Regions from separate parts of the Homo sapiens genome. Here region 2 is linked to region 1. Evidence: fine-mapped expression QTL. Tissue or cell type: lung. Region 1 holds a variant in brackets; the other region holds the start of a gene. All regions are shown on one strand. Distances are between the middles of the regions.

Evidence for each region. PIP is the estimated chance that this variant, and not a neighbour inherited with it, causes the effect.
Region 2: FXYD4 starts here. The variant in region 1 is fine-mapped to the expression of FXYD4 in lung (TOPMed, PIP above 0.99).

The regions. Positions count from the first base shown.
Region 1 is chr10:43,330,672-43,335,818 of GRCh38, forward strand. All of the region lies in intron 2 of LOC105378271 (a long non-coding RNA gene), which reads left to right. It overlaps LOC124902414 (a long non-coding RNA gene), which reads right to left. Exons shown (of 2, transcript XR_007062130.1): 2 at 3,843-4,959. Among named protein-coding and RNA genes, the nearest start is that of LINC02633, 10 kb to the left of the region's middle. RefSeq lists an enhancer at 1-22. The variant C/T (reference allele first, on the strand shown) is at 2,112.
Region 2 is chr10:43,369,256-43,374,402 of GRCh38, forward strand. FXYD4 (FXYD domain containing ion transport regulator 4) reads left to right here and starts at 2,381. Exons shown (of 9, transcript NM_173160.3): 1 at 2,381-2,442; 2 at 3,472-3,517; 3 at 4,260-4,528. The coding sequence starts at 4,492.

The DNA.
Region 1 (5,147 bases):
CCACACCTGCAGTTTCAGCACTTTGGAAGGCTGAGGGGGAAAGACTGCCTGAGCCCAGGAGTTCAAGACTAGCCTGGGCAACATAGTGAGACCCAATCTCTACAAAAAATAATTAGCTGGGCATGATGGCTCACACCTGTAGTCCCAGCTATTTGGGAGACTGAGGTGGGAGGATCGCTTGAGCCCAGGAGATCGAGGCTGCATTGAGCCGAGATTATGCCACTGCACTCCAGCCTGGGTGACACAGCAAAACCCTGCCTCAAAAAAAAAAAAAAAGAAAGAAAAAAAAATAGTGATAACACCAAATGATAGTGAGGATGCAGAAAAACTAGACCACACATTACTGTTAGGAATGTGGCCAGGCACGGTGGCTCATGCCTGTAATCCCAGCATTTTGGGAGACAGAGGCAGGTGGATTACTTGAGGTCAGGAGTTTGAGACCAGCCTGGCCAACATGATGAAACCCTATCTCTACTAAAAATATTTAAAAATTAGCCAGGAGTGGTGGCGGGCACCTGTAATCCCAGCTACTCAGGAGTCTGAGGCAGGAGAATGGCTTGAACCTGGGAGGTGGTGGTTGCAGTGAGCCAAGATCAGGCCACTGCACTCCATCCTGGGCAACAGAGCAAGACTCCATCTCACAAAAAAAATAATGTAAAATGGTACAGGCACCCTGGAAAATAGCTTGGTAGTTTCTTTCTTTTTTTCTTTCTTTTTTTTTTTTTTTAAGATGGAGTTTTGCTCTTGTTGCCCAGGCTGGAGTGCAATGGTGAGATCTCGGCTCACTGCAACCTCCGCCTCCTGGGTTCAAGCAATTCTCCTGCCTCAGCCTCCTGAGTAGCTGGGATTACAGGTGCGCACCATCATGCCTGGCTAATTTTTTGTATTTTTAGTAGAAACGGGGTTTTACCATGTTAGCCAGGCTGGTCTTGAACTCCTGAACTCAGGTGATCCTCCCGCTTCAGCCTCCCAAAGTGCTGGGATTACAGGTGTGAGCCACCATGCCCAGCCGGTAGTCTCTTATAAAACTAAATATATACTGGCCATAAAACCCAGAAACCACACTCACATTTATCACAGAGAAATGAAAACTGTTCACACCAACACCTGGCCACAAATGTCCACAGCAGCATTATTCACAATTGCCAAAAACTGGAAAAAACACAAATGCTCTTCAATGGGTGAATGGTTAAAGAAACTTTGATACCCCCATACCATGTAATACTACTCAGCAATAAAAAGGAACCGACAATTGATATATTCAACAACTTGGATGGATCTCAAGCAAATTACGCTCAGTGAAAAAGAGCCAGTTCAAAAGGCCATATACTGTGTGATTCCATTTATATAACATTTTTGAAATGACAAAATAGACAGATGAAAATCAGATTAGCAGTTGCCAGGGTTTAGGGGCAGAGGAGGAGGGGGCGGACATAGGTAAAGGGTTAGCATGAAGGACTTCTGTGGTGATAATTATTCTGTATCTTGATTGTGGTGCTGGTTACACGAACCTACACATGTGATAAAATTGCATTGAACTATTCACACGCATACATACAACACACACAAGTGAGTGCATGTGACACTGATGAAGTACAAACAAGCTCTGAGGACTGTATCAACATCAGCGTCCTGGCTTTGATATTAAACCATAGTTAGAGAAGATGTTATCATTGGGGGAAACTGGGTGAAACGTACACGAAACTTCCTCGAACTTTTTTTTTTTTTTGCAACTTCCTGTGGGTTTATAATCATTTCGAAATTTATCCTCTTTTTTTTTTTGAGACAGAGTCTCACTCTGTCACCCAGGTTGGAGTGCAATAGCCTGATCTCGGCTTACTGCAACCTCTCCCTCCCAGGTTCAAGCAATTCTTCTGTCTCAGCATCCCATGTAGCTGGGATTACAGGCACGCACCACCACACCCGGCTAATTTTTGTATTTTTAGTAGAGATGGGGTTTCAACATGTTGGCCAGGCCGGTCTTGAACTCCTGACCTCAAGTGATCCGCCAGCCTTGGCCTACCAAAGTGCTGGGATTACAGGCATGAGCCACTGCACCTGGCCCAAATTTTAAAATTCTTAACATATATTATTTTTAAAATGCTTCTCCA[C/T]CCACTCCTCTCCACCGCTGTACTTCTGTTGCTATCTCAGGCAGTGGTCCATGAAGGCCAGCACCACAAATAAAGCTACAACTGCTCAGTGTTTATGTAACACCCAGATAAAACCACCCCCACCCTTCTCCATGTCATCTCAATGTAGTGACATAGCCAAAAGTAACGCAGGTCCAAAACCCTGAGCAGTCATGGAGAGCTTTGCTTCAAGTTTTCTTGGGAGGACTGTGGAGAGTAGGCTCCCATCTCATGATGCAAAGCAAAACTTCCTGATGTCGTCCTTCCCACCCCCGACCAAAGCTGCGCTTTAAAGCAGATCCTCCAGTATCTCCTCCCCTCTCCCCATCTGCTTCTCTCCCCCTAAGCTTCCAGCCTTCTCTTCCTCTCCCCTCCCATCCCCTCCAACAGGACTGCTGGATTTCCGGCAAAAACTCCCAGGTCTGTTCTAACATGGATCAGCCTGGGCTCTTCCCATCTCTGCCCACTCCCACAGCAAAGGCCCCATAAGGAGCAGCCAAACACTCGCACCTCCTCATGACACAAAGGAAAGGGAAGGCTGTGAACAGCCACTTGCGCTGTAGCATTTTTGTTTCTGTTTTTTTTTTAAAAAAAAATGGGTAGGCCGGGCACGGTGGCTCACGCCTGTAATCCCAGCACTTTGGGATGCCAAGGCAGGCAGATCACAAGGTCAGGAGTTCGAGACCAGCCTGACCAACATGGTGAAACCCCATCTCTACTAAAAATACAAAAATTAACCGGGTGTGGTGGCACGCAACTGTGATCCCAGCTACTTGGGAAGCTGAGGCAGGAGAATTGCTTGAACCCGGGAGGCAGAGGTTGCAGTGAGCTGAGATTGCGACGATGCACTCCAGCCTGGGTGACAAAGCAAGACTCTGTCTCAAAAATAAATAAATAAATAAATAAAATGGATAAAAGATTTGGAGAATCACCTCAGCAAAGAAGATAAGCTGATGGCAAATAAGCACAGGAAAAGATGCTCAACATCATTAGTCATTAGGGAAACACTCATTGAAACCATGAAGAGACACCGCGACACACCCACTAGGATGGCTACAACCAAAGAGACTCACCATGGCAAGTGGTAGTGAGGGTGTGAAGAAACTGGGACATTCATGCACTGCTGGTGGGAATGTGAAATGGCACAACCATTTCGGAAGACAGTTTGGCAGGTTCTTATGAAGTTAAGCATACAGCCAGGGATGGTGGCTCACACCTAATACTTTGGGCTTTGGGAGGTGGAGGAGGGTGGATGGCTTGAGCCCAGCCCAGGAGTTAGAGACTAGCCTGGGTAACATGGCGAGACCCTGTTTTGCCATGTCACCCAGGCTCTGTCAACCAGGCTGGAGTGCAGTGGCACAATCTCCACTCACTGCAACTTCCACCTCCCAGGTTCAAGCGATTCTCCTGTCTCAGCCTCCCAAGTAACTAGGATTACAGGTACGTGCCACCACAATGTGCTAATTTTTGTATTTTAGTAGAGATGGGGTTTCACCATGTTGGCAGGCTAGTCTTGAACTCTTGACCTCAGGTGATCCACCCACCTCAGCCTCCCAAAGTGCTGGGATTACAGGCGTGAGCCACGCGCCTGGCCTGCAAGACCCTGTTTCCAAAAATAAAAAAGTTAAACCTGCCATATGACTCAGTCACTTCACTCGTAGGGATTTACCCAGGTTTCATGAAAACATAGTCCACACAAGACCTGCACAGTAATATGTATAGACACTTTATTGGTAATAGTTAGAAACTGGAAACAACCCAAGTGTCCATCAACAGAAGAATGCAGCCAGGCACAGTGGCTCATCCCTGTAGTCCCAGCACTTTGGGAGGCTGAGGTGGGCGGATCATGAGGTCAGGAGTTCAAGACCAGTCTGGCCAACATGGTGAAACTCCACCTCTACTAAAAATACAAAAATTAGCGGCACATGGTGGCATGTGCCTGTAATCCCAGCTACTCGGGAGGCTGAGGCAGGAGTATCGATTAAACCCGGGAGGCGGAGGTTGCAGTGAGCTGAGATAGAGCCACTGGGCAACAGAGCAAGACTCCATCTCGGGGGCAAAAAAAAAAAAAAAAGAAGAATGCATAAATTATGGCACATCCATGCTATGGAATACTGTTTAGCAATTTTAAAAGAATGAACTGCACTCCAACCTGGGTGACAGAGCAAGACCCTGTCTAAAAAAGAAAAAAAGAAAAAATAATAATAAACTATTGATATTCACATCACTACAGATAAATCTCAAAATAATTATGCTAATGGAAAGAAGCCAGACAAAAGAGTACACATTGTATGATTCCATCTATATAAAATTCTAGAAATCGCAAATGAATCAAACAGAAAGCAGATCAGTGCTTGCCTGTGGCATTGCCTTGCCTCTCCAAGGGGTCCTTGGGGGAGGGAGAAAAGGATCACAGAAGGGCATAAGGAAAGTTTTCAGTGATGGATGTAGTCATTTTTTTGATTGTGGTGATTATTTCACCGGGTATATATATATATATATTCTTCCAATTTTGGCCGAGTGCGGTGGCTGTCACCTATAATCCCAGCACTTTGGTAGCCTGAGGCAAGAGGACTCCTTGAGCCCAGGAATTCAAGACCAGGCGTGGTGTAGCCGGGCGTGGTGGTGCACACCTGTAGTCCCAGCTACTCAGGAGGCTGAGGTGGGAGCATTTCTTGCGCCCAGGAGGTGGAGGTTGCAGTACGCTACGATCATGCCACTGCACTCTAGCGTGGGTGACAGAGCTCACTTGAATCTGGGAGGCAGAGTTTGTGGTGAGCCAAGATTGTGCCATTGCACTCCAGCCTGGGCAACAAGTATGAAACTCCGTCTAAAAAAAAAAGAAAAGAAAAAAAAGAAATCAATGTGGCTGCTCTCAAAACACCAGATACGTCTATTGAATCATGCATAGAACCTGGGAAAGGGACCTCTGGGTGGATTCCTGAATGCAGTGGACCTACAGTGAGTTGGGCCTGGGTCAAAACTCTATTGCCTAACTCTCATATAGCCCCAACACTA
Region 2 (5,147 bases), 39 kb after region 1:
AATAAATGATCCCAAACTTCTACATTTTACGTATTTATTGTGAGACAGGTCTCCCTCTGTCACCCAGGCTGGAGTGCAGTGGTGCTTTCTGGGCTCACAGCAGCCTTGACCTCCCATGCTGAAGCGATCCTCCCACCTCTGCTGGAGTATAGGTGTGTGCCACCACGCCAGGCTGTTTGTTCTATTTTTTTTTGTAGAGATGGGGTCTCGCTATGTTGCCCAGACTGGTCTCAAACTCCTGGGCTCAAGTGATCTGCCCACCTTGGCCTCCCAGAGTGTCAGGATTTAACCCCCACACTCCACCGAGACTTTAAAACTCTGACTTCCATTCTTCTCTTTTTTTCTTTTTTAAGATGGAGTCTCGCTCTGTCGCTGAGGCTGGAGTGCGGTGGCACGATCTCAGCTTACTGCAACCTCCGCCTCCCAGGTTCAAGCGATTCTCCTGCCTCAGTTTCCCAAGTAGCTGGGACTACAGGAGCGCGCCACCACGCCCGGCTAATTTTTGTATTTTTAGTAGAGACGGGGTTTCACCTTGTTGGCCAGGCTGGTCTTGAACTCCTGATCTCATGTTCTGCCCTCCTCAGCCTCCCAAAGTGCTGGGATCACAACCGTGAGCCACCGCCCCCAGCCATGACTTCCATTCTTTACCATCCTTACTTCCTGAGCAGGCCATCCTTAACCTTTACACTTAAATAAACTCCTTTAAACTAAAATCTAACCTGTTTGACTATTGTAGATTGACAGGCTAATGAGAGTATGAACCTCCAAAGACTTCTGTGAGGGCTAGGTGCAGTCATATATGCAATGAACTCAAGTAAACAGCTGGCTGAGGAAACACCGGGACGCCTCCTCTGTGCTAAGCCCCATGCAGCATGCACACAGACACAGGCCCACCTCAGCCTCCCAAAGTGCTGGGGTTACAGGCGTGAGCCGCCTTTCCCAACCAATATTTTATATTTTTACACAAGTGACAGCATCCTATTCAGACTGCCCTATACTTTTTTTCCACTTAAAAGTATGTCTGGGCCAGACATAGTGTCTCACACCTGTAATCCCAGCATTTTGGGAGGCCGAGGCAGTGGATCGCCTGAGGTCAGGAGCTCGAGACCAGCCTGCTCAACATAGCGAAATCCCATCTCTACTAAAAATACAAAAATTAGCTGGGCACAGTGGTGTGTGCCGGTAATCCCAGCTACTCGGGAGGCTGAGACAGAATTGCTTGAACCTGGGAGGTGGAGGTTGTGGTGTGCCAAGATCGAGCCACTGCACTCCAGCTTGGGCGACAGAGCGAAATTCCAGCTCAAAAATAAATATATAAATAAACAAACAAACCAACTAAACCATCATTGCCCTCCCCAGCCCTCCCAGCCCAGAGACCCCCATCCCTTGTCAGCCATCCCCCCTTACCTTCTGGACAGGGACAAGTGTCCCTCATTTGGAAAAGAATTAAGGAGGGGTAACAGCAGACTAGGGAGGCCTGGGGTCCTCCACACGCCTGTGTGGGGTGACTTTGGCCCCCAGCAACAAGGCAGGCCTGAGGTCTGCAGAGGGAGGCAGCCCACTCCTCAGCCGGGGGCGTCTATCCTCCTCCTGGCCCCATCCCTCACCTGTGGGGGAGGCTAAGTGGGTGTCAGGGCCCTGTCAGAGGGTGAGCCACCCCCGGGGGTGCCCATCGGCCACCAGCCTCCCTTCAGTAGACACCCAGCCCAAGTGACAGCAGTGGCATGGCACTGCTGAGCACAGGGAGCCTCAAGGTCAGTGCCTGGCTCCTGGTATCCTCCGTGGTCCCCAGGACACCCCCACACAGAGGTCCCAGAACCCCCAAAGCTGGCACAAGAGCCCAGGAACACCCTGCCCAGCACCCTCCAGGTCCCTCTTTTAGGATCTGGGTGAGCTAAAGAAGCCAAAAGAAAGGCTGGGCGCGGTGGCTCACGCTTGTAATCCTAGCACTTTGGGAGGCCGAGGTGGGCGGATTGCCTGAGCTCAGGAGTTGGAGACCAGCCTGGGCAACACATTGAAACCCCATCTCTACTAAAATACAAAAAAAATTAGCCAGGTGTGGTGGCGTGCACCTGTAGTCCCAGCTACTCGGGAGCCTGAGGCAGGGGAATTGCTTGAACCCAGGAGGCAGAGGTTGCAGTGAGCTGAGATTGCATCACTGCACTCCAGCCCGGGTGACAGAGTGAGACTCCATCTCAAAAAAAGAAAAAAAAAAAAAAAAAAAAAAAAAAAAGAAGCCAAAAGAGGGTCTTCGGCCCAGCCCGCCCCTCCCCAACAGCCCTGGGTGTGGCAGGGAGCCTGACCAGTTCCCTCCAGCCTGCGTCATGGAGCCCTGGGCGTGGCTGCAGGGTTTAAAGAGCCGACCCACGTGCCCAGCAGCCTCCTCAGATCCGTTCTCTGCGCTGCCAGCTCAGGTGAGCCCTCGCCAAGGTGACCTCGCAGGTGAGCAGGCGTCCACTTTGGGGCTGCTGGGTGAAGGGGGTGGGTGCCCAAGAATTCTGAGTAATGAGGAGCCTGTTGAGGGGTCTGAGGACAGATATGGCTGCAGCAGCCGCTTGAAGGCCTCCTGCTTTGCACCCACTATCATATGGATGGTGGGTTGGGGGTTGGAGGAAACAGAAGCCAGCCCTTGGCTAAAGAATATATGAGCTGGTGGGGTATACCTCTGGTCCCAACTGCTTGAGATACTCAGGTGAGGAGATCACCTGAGCCAAGAGAGTTCAAGGCTGCAGTGAGCCGAGATCACGCCACTGCTCTCCATCCTGGGTAACAGAGCAAGACCCTGTCTCAAAAAAAAAAAAAATAGTAATAATAATAATAATAAAATAAAAAATGTGACCTAGAGTTGAGACCCTCGTATTCCAGGAACTCCAGGTTGGTGAAGGTAGAGAGACCAGTGAAGGCTGGGGGAAGCCAGCTTTGGAGACTGCTCCTAGCCCAAGAACCGATGTTCAGAAGCAGTGCCTAACAGTCTCTCCCTCCAGTGCCTCCCTCCCACTGCAGAAGGACCATGTGTTTATTTATGGATGTATTTATTTATTTATTTTGAGATGGAGTCTCCCTCTGTTGCCCAGGCTGGAGTGCAGTGCCAGGATCTCGGCTCACTGCAACCTCCACCTTCCAGGTTTAAGTGATTCTCCTGCCTCAGCTTCCCAAGTAGCTGGGAATACAGGCGCCTGTCACCACACTCAGCTAATTTTTGTATTTTTAGTATAGATGGGGTTTTGCCATGTTGGCCAGGCTGATCTTGAACTCCTGACCTCAGGTGATCCACCCGCCTCAGCCTCCCAAAGTGCTGGGATTATAGGTGTGAGCCACTGCGCCCGGCCTATGGATGTATTTATTGTAACAGGTTTTTAGTGCTTACTGTGTGCTAGGCATAGTTCTTAGGCTTGACAAATAGTAGTTCACGTAATTCCATCGCTATAACCTTATGAGGTTGCTACTATTCTGATGATCCTCCTTTTACAGGACACTGGTGAAGGAGCAGTGAGGAACCTGCAGAGTCACACAGTTGGTAAGTTGCTAAGAAGGGACCCAGCCCAGACAGCTGGCCCTGGATCTGTGATCTCATCAGGAGGCCAGAGCTGGGTACAGCAGATGATGACAATGGCTTCAGTATTGAAAACTTGACCACACTAGGCTAACAATATGCAGAGGGCTGGGAGGGGGCCTGCGCTCAAAGACTCAGCCTCCCTAAGGACAAGTAAATGGGGTCCTGGCTACTTCCAACCTGAGGGGGAAATGTCATACCACAGGAGGTCTATACTCTGAGAGCAGAATCTGGGTCTGCTGGAGTAGGGTCCCCTGCCAGGGCTGGCAGGGGAGGTCCTGGCTGCTGCAGTCATCTCATCCCAGGACTCAGCACTCCCTCCCTCCTCCACACCCTTGCTTTTGTGGAGGCTCTCTGGGAATTCAGACTGAGGGTGCTGGACTCTGGCCACCCCAGGCCCAGACCTTTGGGAACAATAGCCTGGGGCCTGATAACAATGCCCTTTGTGTGGGGTTAGGAAGGCAGGCTCCAGACCCTGACTTAGAATAGCAGCCACCTGACCCTGGGCATCTGATTACACCTCTCTAAGCTCCATTTTTTTTTTTCTTCTCTGAAATAGAGACAATAATAGTATCTTCCTCATGGGGAGGAGTAGGGGGTGGGTTTGTCGCATGGATTTTAACAACGCCTTCTACAGCACTTACTCTGTGCAGGCACAGTTTTGAGCTCTTAGCTTGTGCTTACTCAATCCACACAACTCCCCCAGGCCACCACCATCTCTAGATGGGAAGACAGAAAGTAGTTACTTTCCCAAGATCTCCCCACAAGCAAGTGTATCCTTGGGGTTTGTACACCTACTTTCACCATGGGGCTCTGCCTGCCCCCGCCCCTGCCTCCTCTCGCTGACCAATTGAGCTGTGAGCCTGGAGCAGATCCGTGGGCTGCAGACCCCCGCCCCAGTGCCTCTCCCCCTGCAGCCCTGCCCCTCGAACTGTGACATGGAGAGAGTGACCCTGGCCCTTCTCCTACTGGCAGGTGAGTCCTCCCAGTCTCCTGGGACCCTCTTGCATTCACCCCACCCACAAAGGCAGCAAAAGCCAGACAACATCTCCTTTGGGAGTCTGGTGTTCAATCAGCATGCTTTATTTAAACTGCCAATTTAGAGAGAAACATGAAGGAAATGACAGTACAGGTAGGATGAGAATATTGCAAAAAGGTCCTAATAGCTCCAGAGGAATTGAACCATGGAAAACATTAACCACCTGTGGCTTGAAGACAAAAGCAGGGTGGCACAGCGGCTCAGGCCTGTAATCCCAGTGTTTTGGGAGGCCAAGGTGGGAGGATCACTTGAGCCTGGGAGGATCACTTGAGCCTGGGAGGTCGAGGTTGCAGTGAGCTAGGATTGCACCATTGCACTCCAGCCTGGGTGACAGAGAGAGGTTCCGACTCATAAAAAAGACAAGCATTCCCTGTTTCTTCAGGGGGCAGAGACATAACAAACCATCCCAGTCAGCATGCACACAGGAGCATCAGGAAGCCTGGGACAGCAGGGCTTGGGCGGGGCCACACCCTGAGGCTGTGTGGGGCTGGGGAGGGCGTGAGGAAGGGAACTGGTGGCTCCAGGGTCACCCCACAACCTCCGGGCTGGGGTCCT